Linked DNA regions of Homo sapiens: region 1 is linked to region 2. Evidence: fine-mapped expression QTL. A gene starts in region 2. The other region holds a variant in brackets. All regions are shown on one strand. Distances are between the middles of the regions.

Region 1 (2,914 bases), 34 kb after region 2:
GGATGGCTTGAGCTAGGGAGGATGAAGCTGCAGTGAGCCAAGATAGATTGTGCCACTGCATTCCAGTCTAGGTGACATAGTGAGACCCCGCCTCCAAAAAAAAAAAAAAAAAAGAAAGGGGAAAAAGGAAGAAAGGAAACGACATAACGATATATGTAAGACTGAAACTTTCTTGCTGCATGAGATATGGTATTGTGAAATGATTCAGATTTTGGCTTCTGAGCTCAGATTGCCTAGGTCCAAATCCCACTCTGGCACATAGCTGGGTGATCTTGGACAGCTCCCTCAGCCTATTAGTTTCTTCATCTGTAAAATGGGATGCTGATCGTGTATCTTTCATTGGCTATTGCTGTGTGCATTAAATGAGTTAGTACCTGTAAAGTCCTTTGAAAGGTGCTTGGGACATTGCAAGTGTTAAAAGCATTGTACCCTGCATAGGCCAGAAAGAAGGCATCAGAGCAGAGCCGACGGTACAGGCCATGTTGTCTGACCACATCTGTGGCCTCAGGCAAGGAAATGTCCTCTCTATGCTTCTGTTTCCTCATCTGGCAATGGGGACAATACCAGTACTTCCTTCAGAGGAGTTTTGTGAGGCTAAAATGAAATTGCATGTGTAAAGCTCTTAGCAAATAGTGTTGGCACATACAAAATGCTCCGTTGATACCAGGTATTTTATTATTATGATTTAAAAAATTCTCTGCATTTAAAGAAATCTGCCACCTCCTTTCCAAACACCCTATACTTTCCTCTTCTTTTGGAAGTATTCCTCTCATAGTTTGAAATATTTAATTCTTGATGTTGTCCAGTTTTTCTTTGAAGGGCTAGTTTCTTTGATCCAGGGAGATGCAGCATTTATGTTGGCTGTCAACAGGGCAACGCCCAGGAATTATTATTTTTCTAATGACCTAACGTCATTTTCCAGAAATTCTCTAAAAAACAAACTTCTTCGGGGACAAAATAAATTTGAGACTTCCATTAGTTCTTGCAAACACTTTATAACCCATCTCTCAGATGCTAACATTTTCCTGCGCATTCTGACCGGGTGCCAGAAATCCTATGGCTCTGACATCTAAAATGAGGATTGTTTGGCTGTTCTCAGTACATTCTATTTGTTCTGAGGTATATTTTGTACTGAAAGTTTAAAGGAATTACCTTGTATCTTATATTTAGCCTACCGTAACTTGTTTTTCTCTTCTATATATTTATTCAGGTTTGTTTCCTACTTTATTTTACAGTTATCACAAGGACACTACAAAGTCTCTTTTGTGAAAT[C/T]GCCAAATGTTTCAGAATTCAACAGACATTATTAACTGTTCTTTCACCCTCCAAGAAACTCTACATTCATCTCAGTTCCCTGTATTGAAAAAGTCTCTGAAAAAAAGTATGTGGACATTTATTTATTATGAGGAAATCAGCATTTCTATTTATCTCTTAATTATTATAACATTTAATCATATTTGTTGGTTCAAGGTAAGTACTAATTGTGCTTCTCTCAAAGTATGAGCACTATATTTCTTCAGAAATAATGCTAAGCCTAGACAACAGGGCAAGACCCCATCTTTAAAATTTGTTTTTCTTCTTTTTGAGACGGAGTCTCGCTCTGTCACCCAAGCTGGAGTACGATAGTGCGATCTCAGCTCACTGCAACCTCTGCCTCCTCGGTTCAAGCAATTCTCCTGCCCCAGCTTCCCTAGCAGCTGGCATTACAGGTGCCCGCCACCACGCCCAGCTAATTTTTTGTATTTTTAGTAGAGATGGGGTTTCACCATGTTGGTCAGGCTGGTCTCGAACTCCTGACCTCAGGTGACCCACCCACCTTGGCCTCCCAAAGTTCTAAGATTACAGGCGTGAGCCACCACACCTGGCCAAAAAAAAATTTTTTTTAAGTTAGCTGGGTGTGTTGGTGCACACCTGTAGTTTCCAGCTACTTGGGAGGCTCAGGCCAGAGGATTGCTTGAGTCCAGGAGTTTGAGACTTCAGTGAGTGACGATGGTGCCACTGCACTCCAGCCCCTGGGCCACAGAGAGAGAGAGACCCTATCTGAAAAAAGAAAGAAAAAAGAAAAAGAGAAAGGAAGGAAGGGAGGAAGGAAGGAAGGGAGGAAGGGAGGGAGGAAGGAAGGAAGGAAGGAAAAGAAAGAAAGAGAAAGAAAGAGAGAAAGAAAGAAAGAAGGAAAGAAGGAAAGAAAGAAAGAAAATATTGATGGCCAGAGAGAGAGAGAGACCCTATCTAAAAAAAGAAAGAAAAAAGAAAAAGGAAGAAAGAGAAAAAAAGGAAGAAAGAGAGAAAAAGAAAGGAAAGAAAGGAAAGAAAGAAAGAGAAAGAAAGAAGGAAAGAGGAAGGAAAGAAGGAAAGGAAAGACGAAAGAAAGAAATGCTGAATGTTACAGATATTGACACAGACATTCCTACATTGGAATGCATATTCCCTCTGGGCTTTTACAGTTAGGGAAGTGCTGAGTCACTGCCTGGCGTACTCACATGCCTGTAGTTTATAAGCCAGCCACATGCTGGCAGAAACAGTGTAGAACCAGTGGGCCATGTGGACCTCTTGCCACCCACAAGCAAGGCGGGTGACAGGGCAGAGAGCTCCTTAGCAGTTACTAGCAATGGCTCGCTTGGTTGAAATAATTTTTTGAAGCTTTTGACAAATAATATAAAGATTACTAAGAAAGCCTGGCGGTTTGCAGCAAAAATTATTTGCTTGGGCAAACTTTAGTCAGGCTCTGGAATCTTCTCCTAGGGCCTTCTATGCACTTCCTTGTAAAATCTAGTTTTAGCAAAGAACCCTGCTAAGTCAGTTAAGCAAGAATCCCCCACCTACAATATCTGATCACCTTCATGTCTGATTGGGTTCTTCTCCCTCCACCAGCCCCCAGGCGATGTCTGGTTTCCTGGCCTGTCTTCAACAAGAATCC
Region 2 (2,914 bases):
TCCCAGTAAAGGCCATTAGGTTTGGGATTTAGGACTTTGATGGCCGCCCTAGAGAGACCAATGGATGATGAGTTCACGGTCCTCTTTAACTCAAAGCCCGGTATACATTCCCATTTTATTAAATACTATGGATATTGTAATTTCTTACCTCCTGGAATGCAAAAATTGGGCTGCTTTTGTTTTTTTCACACTCAGAAATATTGCTATCAGATGAAAAAGTGTAGTTGCCAGTTTCTTCCCATATTCTCCGATAAACATATTGCGTTGTCAGTGGACCGGTCAAAGTCATAGCAAATGCACTAAGGAAAATGGCAGGTTCTACAAATAAAATCTTCATATTGCCTGGGTAGGTAGCTGTATTCTATAAAAAGTGAAAACGGAGAAAGATCATCTGTCTCATCCCAGAGGCTAGATATTCAAAGATGGGTAAGTTTGAGCAATTTTGTGGAGTAAATGTTTAAACAAGCAAACTAGAGAACAGAAAAGGCAGTAAGCACTTTCTCAGAGAATAACTTTTACTTTGGAGTAGAGTACTCTGTAACAACCTGAGGCTGCCATGCTTTCCATTTTTATGAGTAGGACATTGTAGGACTCAAGCCGCCTTTGAGTCTTTGAAATCATAAACTGTCACCCATCTTGGTTAGCCAATGATCACAGTACAGTTCCCACACTGTATATTGCCAACTGATTTTTCGTAAGTTCAACAATGAGGTTCCTTTTGGGAAGCGACAGTTGCACAATTGTTATTGTTATTTTGCTGCGTATTAAAAACGGACAGGGAGGGGGCGTTTTAAAAAGCAGCTCCCAATCGAAAGGGCCTTATTTTTAACTCACCCCACGATTACAGTCTTCCTGCCAGGCTGGGTACAGGTCGGGCCGTGCCAGGGGCTGTCGCCTCGGATGCCCTGCGCTCGTGCGCGCCCGGGTTCAAGGGCAGCCTCTGGACTGGGGCAACAGAGGACGCGCCGGGGACAGTAACCTCGGACTACGCGGCCGGCGCTGGGGTGGGGAGAGTACTTTCCCGTCGAACTCGACCAAATTACGCTTGTCGGGGAGTCTCAAGCGTATTGTAAAGCAAACCTCGGCAAGCGCACTTCCGCGTCCCGAGTGACACCTGCAGGGTTCTCCGGCAGCCCTCGGCTTCCCCGCGGCCCTGCGGACCTCGGCCTCAGCGCGGCGCGGCGGGGCGCGGAGCAGCTGCTCCTTCTGCGCAGTGGACAATCGGCCAATCGGCGCCTCCGTCGGTCGGTCAGCGGCCCTGCCAGCGCTAGGCGATGACTCGGCCGCAGCCAGCTGAGCATCGCTGTCCGCCGAGGAGGCGGGGTCGGCTGCCGCGGCGCTGTCACTGTTCTACCCGGCTCTCCTGCGATTGGGCCCAGCGGTCGGTGCCCCAGCGGCGATTGGTCCACCCGGACGTCACTCTCCCCTGGAGAGTGGCTAGTGGATCGTGCACCCACCCTCGGAGGCCCGGAGTGGATCCCGCGCGACCGAGCAGCCACTCAGCACCGCTGTTGAGTGGTGGGCCGCGCCGCAGGCTCAACAGCTCTGGAGTTGCAAAGCATTTCTGAATCCGAATATCCTTTCTCATAGAAACACATAAAACAACAGTTGGAAAAGTAACATGTTTGGGCTGTAGCCCCCAGCAGGATCCCGGTCGGCCCGCAGAAGAGGGGAATGGGCGCAGGTGGAGGGCATAGGAAAGAGAGTGCTCAATGCAGAGTTAGCGGAGGGTTGGAATGTGGTCGCTGGCTTTTCCTGGGGAGGGGAGGGGGGACTTGGGCAAATCGTTAAATTTTCATGAACCTCCATGTCTTTATCTGCCACGTGGGGATGATAAGTCTTACAGGGTTGTCTAATTAAACACTCAGCATGTATACACAACACAGCCCCTGGACATAGGAGGAGTTGTCAGTGCTCTCCAACACACCCACCAGGAACAACTTGTAGTAAAAGAATTGAGCTACTACTTCTTGAAGCCAGGAGAAATGCATGCATGAGGAACCGTGGGGGCATCTCAGTAAGAAGGTGTTAGAATTTACTATGGGCTTGCGTTATGTGATTTTGGGAAGAGTTCAAGAAAGCAAGGCCTTACTCTGGATTGGTTGCTGTCAGGAAATGGCAGTAATTCTATGATTGGGTATCTTAATAAGTCTTATTTAGGAGTCAAGACTAGACAGAGGCTAAAGCCATGAATGATAAAGAAGCAACAGTCACACATATTTGTCATTTTTGTGGTTTAGACAGTGCCTAAATTTTGTCCGTGTTCAGACAAAATTATGACGTGGTCTTGTTTTTGTCTTGATCATGGTTACAGAATGCTCTTGTCTGACTTTGGTGTTCCGTGAAATTGTTTTCATTCGACAGAACACCATGGTCCAGAAAAGTTCTTAGCAACACCAAGGCCCAGCTGATAGTTCCAGCACCTGGATGTCAGAGCTGCTTTCTCTTCCTCAGCACTCCTTAAATGACAGTTGTGTCACTGAATGCAGAGTTAAACGTCTTAGGTTTGAGTCCTAACTGATACTTAGTAGCTGGTAACCTTGGACTTGCCACTTAATCTTACTTCCCAGCTTCTTCAAATCAGCATTTATGAAGCACTTGTTATGAGTTTCAAACAATGGAGCATGGATATTGGAAAGAAGATAAACAAACATGAGTAAGATACAGTTTGCAAGGAAGACATAATATTTTAAGTTGCAGTACTTTGTACTAAGTACTATATTATTCTAAACGGCACTTAGAAGATGTCCTTTTTTTTTTTTTTTTTTTTTGAGGTGGAGTCTCGCTCTGTCACCCAGGCCGGAGTGCAGTTGCAGGATCTTGGCTCACTGCAACCTCCGCCTCCCGGATTCAAGCAATGATCCTGCCTCAGCCTCCTGAGTAGCTGGGGTTACAAGTGTGCGCCACCATGGCC

Evidence for each region. PIP is the estimated chance that this variant, and not a neighbour inherited with it, causes the effect.
Region 1: its variant is fine-mapped to the expression of SLC46A3 in whole blood (INTERVAL, PIP 0.90).

What each region holds. Positions count from the first base shown.
Region 1 is chr13:28,751,232-28,754,145 of GRCh38, forward strand. No RefSeq gene overlaps it. Among named protein-coding and RNA genes, the nearest start is that of SLC46A3, 34 kb to the left of the region's middle. RefSeq lists an enhancer at 2,113-2,858. The variant C/T (reference allele first, on the strand shown) is at 1,273.
Region 2 is chr13:28,717,662-28,720,575 of GRCh38, forward strand. SLC46A3 (solute carrier family 46 member 3) reads right to left here and starts at 1,309. Exons shown (of 6, transcript NM_181785.4): 1 at 835-1,309; 2 at 149-361. The coding sequence starts at 337.